Linked DNA regions of Homo sapiens. The protein of the gene in region 1 interacts with the protein of each later gene in a pairwise test. Each region holds a gene or a part of one and is shown on either strand. Other genes may lie near its edges.

Region 1 (3,823 bases):
GTCCAGCCAATCTGTTCAGGATGACCATTAAGAACTATCTACAGGCCGAATGTGGTGGCTCACGTCTGTAATCCCAGCACTTTGGGAGGCCAAGGCAGGTGGATCGCCTGAGGTCAGGAGTTCAAGACCAGCCTGGCCAACATGGTGAAACCCCGTCTCCACTAAATATATAACAATTAGCTGGGCGTGGTGGCACATGCCTGTGATCCCAGCTACTTGGGAGGCTGAGGCAGGAGAATCGCTTGAACCCAGGAGGCAGAGGTTCACCCAGGAGGGTGAGCCGAGATCGCAACACTGCACTCCAGCCTGGCCAACAGGGCGAGACTCCATCTCAAAAAAAAAAAAAAACAAAAAAACTATCTACATTAACTGTATGTTTATTTGTGTTTATTTCTAGTTAGTGTCTAGTTCTGCTATTAAACTCTAAATTCTGAGAGGCCAGGACCTCCCAAAGGAAAACTTTGTAATGGTGGAGTTTCAGGCACTGTCTCCAGCCAGTGCCCCCTCCTCAGGCTGTGTCAGTGACTCCCTAGCTCAGGTGTCCAGCCCTGGGACAGACTGAAAAGTCCAACTGGACCCTAGTGGAGTCCACATGGGGGCCCACATAGTTTTATTGTTTGTATTTCCTTGGTACCTGGCTCATGACAAGCACTTATAAATATTTGTAAATCAGTGATCACTGAGCACATGTGTGGAATAATGTGACTGCAGTGATCAGCACGGGGCCAGACCAGAGCTGGGGAACTCACTCAGTCATTCTCTTCCCATGTTTTTCAGATTTGCGAAATGATCCAGAAATCAGTGTCCTCCGATCTACAGCCTTATCTCCAAACTCTGCCAGGTAGGACACCCCATCCATCCCGGGACACTTTTATTTCTGTTAATTTCTATAAGAGCATATATATATCTTATAAAATAGTAAATGGGGCAAAAATATAGAAAGTAAAAATTAAGGGCCAGGCGCAGCGGCTCACACCTGTAATCTCAGCAGTCTGGGAGGCCGAGGCGGGTGGATCACCTGAGGTCAGGAGTTCGAGACCAGCCTGGCCAACATGGTGAAACCCTGTCTCTACTAAAAATACAGAATTAGCCGGGCGTGGTGGCGCATGCCTGTAATCCCAGCTACTCGGGAGGCTGAGGCAGGAGAATTGATTGAACCCAGAAGGTGGAGGTTGCAGTGAGCCAAGATCACGCCATTGCACCCTACCCTGGGCAACAAAGACCGAAACTCTGTCTCAACAGAAAAAAAAAAAAAAAGAAAGTAAAAATTAAAAGTTCATTTTTCTCCCCCACTTTTCTTCCAAGAAGTAACTTCTGTTTTGGGTGTATCTTTTCAGATATTTTCTTTGTATGTACAAATATAAATACATGTAAGCATATAAATAGACATTCATGTATGTATTATTTTGTTCATGAATCTATGTGTATATGTATTATTTTAAATATATATGTTCATATACATATAGTATAGGCATTGTTCCAGATTTCTTTTTTTTGAGATGGGGTCTCACTCTGTGTCCCAGGCTGGAGTGCAGTGGTGTGATCTCGGCTCACTGCAGCCTCAAACTCTTGAGCTCAAGTGATCCTCCTGCCTCAGCCACCTGAGTAGCTGGGACTACAGGTGCATGCCACCACACCCGGCTACTTTTTGTATTTTTTGTAGAGACAGGGTTTCTTTATGTTGCCCAGGCTGGTCTCGAACTCCTGGGCTCAAGTGATCTGCCCACCTCAGCCTCCCAAAGTACTGGGATGACAGGCACGAGCCACTGTGCCAGCTTGATTTCATTTTTAAAAACTTTTTATTGAAGTATATTTATAAAGAAAAGTGCTCAAATCATAAGTGTGCTGTTAAAGAGTTTTTACATGCATGTAACCAGCTCCCAACCGAGAAACAGAACACGGCTGGTTTTTCAGAGCCCCTGGTGTCCCCCTCGGTCACTGCCCAGCCCTCCAGGGTCACCACCATCCCAACTTCTACCAGCAAAGATTAGTTTTGCACTTTGCACATGAATGGAATCAGACAATATTTTGAGTCTCTTTTCAAAAGCCAGAAGGCTTTCTTTGTTCAACTTTAAAATATGAGGTCAGGGCTGGGCGCGGTGGCTCACGCCTTTATTTTTTGTTTTCTTTTTTTTTTTTTTTTTTTTTGTGAGACGGAGTCTCGCTCTGTTGCCCAGGCTGGAGTGCAGTGGCGCAATCTCGGCTCACTGCAAGCTTCGCCTCGCGATTTCACGCCATTCTCCTGTCTCAGCCTCGCGAGTAGCTGGGACTACAGGCGCCCGCCACCACGTCTGGCTAATTTTTTTTGTATTTTTAGTAGAGACGGGGTTTCACCATGTTAGCCAGGATGGTCTTGATCTCCTGACCTCGTGATCCGCCCGCTCGGCCTCCCAAAGTGCTGGGATTGCAGGCGTGAGAGCTCACGCCTGTAATCCCAACATTTAGGGAGGCCGAGGCGGGTGGATTACCTGAGGTCAGGAGTTCGAGACCAGCCCAGTCAACATGGTGAAACCCCGTCTCTACTAAAAATACAAAAATTAGCCAGGTGCCGTGGTGGATGCCTGTAATCCCAGCTACTCGGGAGGCTGAGGCAGGAGAATCACTTGAACCTGGGAGGCGGAGTTTGCGGTGAGTTGAGATTGTGCTACTGCACTCCAGCCTGGGCAACAGAACAAGACTCTGTCTCAACAAAGAAAAAAAATAATAAATAATAAATAAACAAAATAAAATATGAGGTCAGGTCAGGCTTGGTGGTGCACACCTATAATCCCAGCACTTTGGGAGGCCAAGGAGGGAGTATCACTTCAGTTCAGGAGTTCAAGGCCAGCCCGGGCAACATAGCGAAACCCCATCTCTACAATAAATACAAAAATTAGCCAGGCATAGTGGTGTGTGCCTGTAGTCCCAGCTACTTGGGAGGCCAAGGTGGGAGGATCGCTTGAGCCCAGGAGGTCAAGGCAGCGGTGGGCTGAAATTGTGCCACTGCACTCCAGCCTGGGCCACAGAGTGAGATCCTATCTCAAAAAGAAATGAAATAAAATAAAACATGAGGTCCATGCATATTGTTGCATGCACCTGTAGTGTAGCTGGTTTATTCTCCTTGCTGCATAGTATATCACCATGTAGATGTTTCCCCATTTATTTGTTCATTCTACTGTTGAAGGCCATCTGGGGGGTGTTCAGTTTTAGGCCATTATCCGTAGTGCTGCTATAAATGTCCTAGTACCTATGGTCGCATGTCTTTGGGTATATATCTGGGAGTGAAATTGCAAGCTCGTCATATCATGTGATATGCCCAGATTCAGCATTATAAGATCCTGCCAAACAGTTTTCCAAAGTGGTTGTAACAGACCTTATTTGTTAACAGCCGTGTAGTGTTCCATCACATGGATGTGTCTTCATTTATTTAATAAGTCCCCCACTGATGGACATTTAGGTGCTTTGCTGTCCCTTGCTATTGCCAACAGGGCTGCAAGGAGCCATCTACAAGTGGAGTCTCTGGATCCAGGGTGCACACATTAAGCTCGGAGGGGGAGACCCTGGCAAATTATCTGAGATGTTCTCTGATGCCTTAGCTCCTAAGCCCCTATGCGGTTATTTGCTGACATCACCTTTACCAGAGGTCCAGGTCGGCAACCCGGTACTGGGACTTGGAACATTCATCCATTCAGGGTTTTGGAGGGGAGTGTCTGGGCCCTCTGGACATGCCATGCCTGACCTTCCTGGTTATTGGCTCAGCATTAAGCTCCAGGTGTGGCTGGAGAGGTGAAGCCTGGACTCATGGTGTGTGTGTATGTGTGTGTGTGTGTGTGCTTGTCTGGAA
Region 2 (3,823 bases), on another chromosome or scaffold:
TTACAAAGAAAAGAGGTTTAACTGGTTCACAGTTCCACAGGCTGTACAGGAAGAATGGCAACATCTACTTCTGGGAGGCCTCTGGGAGCTTTTACTTCAGCAGAAGGCAAAGTGGGAGCAGGTGTCTTACATGGCACGAGCAGGACCAAGGGCAGAGGGAGGTGCCACAGGCTTGTAAACAACTGGATCTTCTGAGAACTCCCTCAGGAGAACAGCAGCAAAGGGGGAAATCCACCCCCATAATCCAATCACCTCACACCAGGCCCCACCTCCAACATAGGGGATTACAATTTTACAAGAGACACAAATCCAAATCATATCAGTTTCCAATAGTGATTGTAGATCTCCCGCTGGTTGTGGGCAGAAGAAAATTTCCTAAGTTAGCAAGTTAGTGTGAGAATCAACATGAGGACATCAGGACATGGCCATACCTGTCACACTGGGCCTCCACATCTGGCCAGTTCTAAATAACCTTCATCCTAACTGGCCCAATGGCCTGAACCTTGAGTAATTCAGAAAACTCTCAATCTCAGTATCCTCCCGGGAGACCAGTCTCTCCATTTAACGGGTCTTAAGATTATATTTATTTAGTACCAGTTTATTTAAGAAAACCACATATCTATATTCTGTATACACTCTCAGGTCTAATAAAATGAAAATAATGAGAAAATTTCCATAAAACCCTTGCTTAAAACAATACCTCAAGTTTAAGGAATGCTAGACACCATTTTTGTTTCTGTGACATAAACATTGTTAACCTGATTTTTTCCATTGTGTGTTATTTGTAAAGGCAAGTAAATGGAACTGTGAGGTTCAAAGATAGAATAGACTGAAAACATGATTTTTGAGTATATGCTGTCTTTTGAACCTTGCTGCCCTCCTGTCACTAAAAGTGGGGAAGCTGACTTTTTAACCTTCTGTTTCATAGATTCGGTGCTAGTTGATGAACTCAGTAAATACTTCCGGGGCTATTTGTTTGCCAGTCATTGGTGCTAAGGGTTAAGGATGTAACAGTGAAAAACAGCCCTCACCCTTGGGGACCTTCTAGTCTAAATATAAACTGATTGGACTACTGAGGGTCAGATGAAATAGTGACTGGGGGATTTGTGTTATTGTTATATAAAAACACTATGGTGGAAACTATAAAGTATAATATAAAAGCAATGTGTTTTTGAGGCACTTGACACTTTAGGAAGTGCTTTTTGTGACTGCTTATTATCCTGGCCACAGCTCTGGAAGAAGAGAAAGGGCTCATGCTCTGCATTTTCCAGAAGTAGAAACTGAGAAACAGGGAGATTGCATGCCTTGCTCAAGATTACATATCTAATACATGACAGAGCCAGGATTCCAGCCCAGTTCCCTTGATCATTTTTAATGTAGGGGATCTTACCACATGCACGTATATTTAGTACTAGTGAGAAAATATTCCATTAACATTTGCATGATACCCTGGGAATAAAGGGAGGAGAGATGCTAGCAGTCTTTGAATGAATAAATAAAGACAACGAAAAAGAACGTTCAGTTGTTGTGCAGCAGGTCAGAGTTGAATGAGAACTGGATTGCCCAACTTGCCTTGATGATATTGTGCCTGAGGAGTCGGTTTTGATTCTGTTTTGTATTTTGATGTTTTGTTTGTCTTTCCTTAGTCCCTGTTCTGGGAAAATAGCCACCTCCTTGTTAACAGCTTTGCAGACAACACCCGTCGTTTTATGCCCCTGAGCGATGTTCTGTATGGCAGGGTTGCAGATTTCTTGAGCTGGTGTCGACAGAAAAATGACTCTGGTAAGACTCCTGCACAAATCACAGGAGACTTAAGAACTCCTATTTACTATGCATTACCATTTGTGCTAAATGCTTTCATATGCATTTATTTCACTTGATCCTCTCCAAGTCCTCTGAGATAAGTGGCAAGAATAGTTAATAATAACAATACTAGAGAATACTTAACTTTGCAGGTGCCAGTCTAAGCACTCTCTCTCTCTCTCTCTCTCTATATATATATATATATATACACATATATATACACATATATATACATATCTATACATATCTATATCTATATATACACACATACTCATTTGATGCCCACAACAACCTCATGGGATCCTATCATAATCCCCATTTTGATAAATGAGGAAACTGAGGCACAGCAAGATTAAGAAATCTGCTCAGGGGGCATAGCTAGTAAGCAGCAGACAGTCTGACTCCAGAGCCCATTTTCTCAACTTTGCACAACTCTGCCTTACTATCCTCATTTGTCCAGAGGGGGAAGCTGAGGCTTAGGGAGGTTAAATGACTGGAAGTGGTAAGGCTGGGTCTCAGTCCTGTCCTGATGGATTCTGAAGCCTGTGCTCTGTAACACCACTCCAGGCCGCCGGCAGATATTTCGAGATCCAAGTCACAAGGAAAGTTAGAGTCACAAGAGCTGGCCTGAATGTTCTGCAAACACTCCTCATTCATCCAACTGTGGTGCTAGGAGCTGGAGACACAGCAGTCCCCATCTTCAGGGAGGTTATAGCCTCATGGGGGATATCAGCTCGAGTGATATGGGCTATAATGCAGGAAAAATGGTGTTCGAGGAGTAGCAGAGTGAGACACCAGCCTCCACCAGATCATCAGGGAAGCTTCAGAAGGGAGGCTAGCAAGGAAAGGAGGTTAGGGAGTGTTTCCATTATGAAGACTGGAGATCCTTCCTGGGTATCAGAGTTACTTCAAAAGTTAACCTAATATCAGGCCGGGCATGGTAGCTCACGCTTGTAATCCTAGCACTTTGGGAGGCCGAGGTGGGTGGATCATTTGAGGTCACGAGTTCGAGATTAGCCTGGCCAACATGAAGAAATCCAAACTCTACTAAAAATACAAAAAAATTAGCCAGGTATGGTGGTGCATGCCTGTAATCACAGCTACTCGGGAGGCTGAGGCAGGAGAATCCCTCGAACCCTGGAGAAGGAGGTTGCACTGAGGCGAGATCATACCACTGCACTCCAGCCTGGATGACAGAGTGAGACTCGGCACACACAAAAAAAAGAGTTAACCTAATATCAGTTCTGTTTATTTCTCCTCCATTCATTTGTCCATCAAACTAAAATTTATAGTGTCTACTATGTGCCAGACCCTCATCTTCTAGACAGTAGGAAAACAGCAGAGAATAAAACATGAAATTAATACCCCATGCTTACATTATAGGAGGGCAGATAAGACAATAAACAGGCAAGTGAAATATACAGACTGCCTTAAGATTATAAGGGCTATGGAGAAAATTAAAACAGGTAATAAGGACAAAAAAGATTGAGGGTGGAGGGCCAGGGAAAGGAAAGTGTTGCATTTTTACCTAGATGCCGAGGGAAAACCTCACTGATAAGCTGATATTTGAACAAGGACCTGAAGGAGATGAGAAAGAGCATTTTCTGATGGGAGAACAGCAATTGCAAAGGCCCTGAGGTGGGAGCGTGTGTGACATATTTAACAGCAAAGAGGACAGTGGGCAAAGAGGAAAGTGTGAGCTATGAGGCTAGAGGAATAAAGGAGGGCCAGGTGGCACAGGATGTTGTGAGGCCTCTGCTTTTCACTGTGAGTGAGATGGGCAGCATTGCAGGTTCCACGTCAAATGGACACAGCCATTCTTTCAATGGAGAACTTCCAGGAAGCTTTTGTTTGATGATGCTGCAGAGGGTGGGGAGAAGGAGGGGAGGAATGTGATGAAAAACACATAAAGAAAGGGAGAGCCTTCCAGAAAACCACCAGTTATTTCTTCTTCACCTCGCTGCCCTTTTCTATCTATGCCCTCCTATCAGGGCTCTTTGTTTCAGAAAGAAGTGAAGTC

The links.
Region 2: the proteins of LBP (region 1) and BST1 interact in a two-hybrid assay, tested with the Homo sapiens proteins (one large-scale study listed by BioGRID and IntAct).

Annotation. Positions count from the first base shown.
Region 1 is NC_000020.11:38,359,927-38,363,749, forward strand, and holds part of LBP (lipopolysaccharide-binding protein precursor), read left to right. Parts: intron 1-777; coding exon 778-841; intron 842-3,823. UniProt on the Homo sapiens protein: Plays a role in the innate immune response. Binds to the lipid A moiety of bacterial lipopolysaccharides (LPS), a glycolipid present in the outer membrane of all Gram-negative bacteria.
Region 2 is NC_000004.12:15,705,865-15,709,687, forward strand, and holds part of BST1 (ADP-ribosyl cyclase/cyclic ADP-ribose hydrolase 2 precursor), read left to right. Parts: intron 1-1,646; coding exon 1,647-1,782; intron 1,783-3,823. UniProt on the Homo sapiens protein: Catalyzes both the synthesis of cyclic ADP-beta-D-ribose (cADPR) from NAD(+), and its hydrolysis to ADP-D-ribose (ADPR).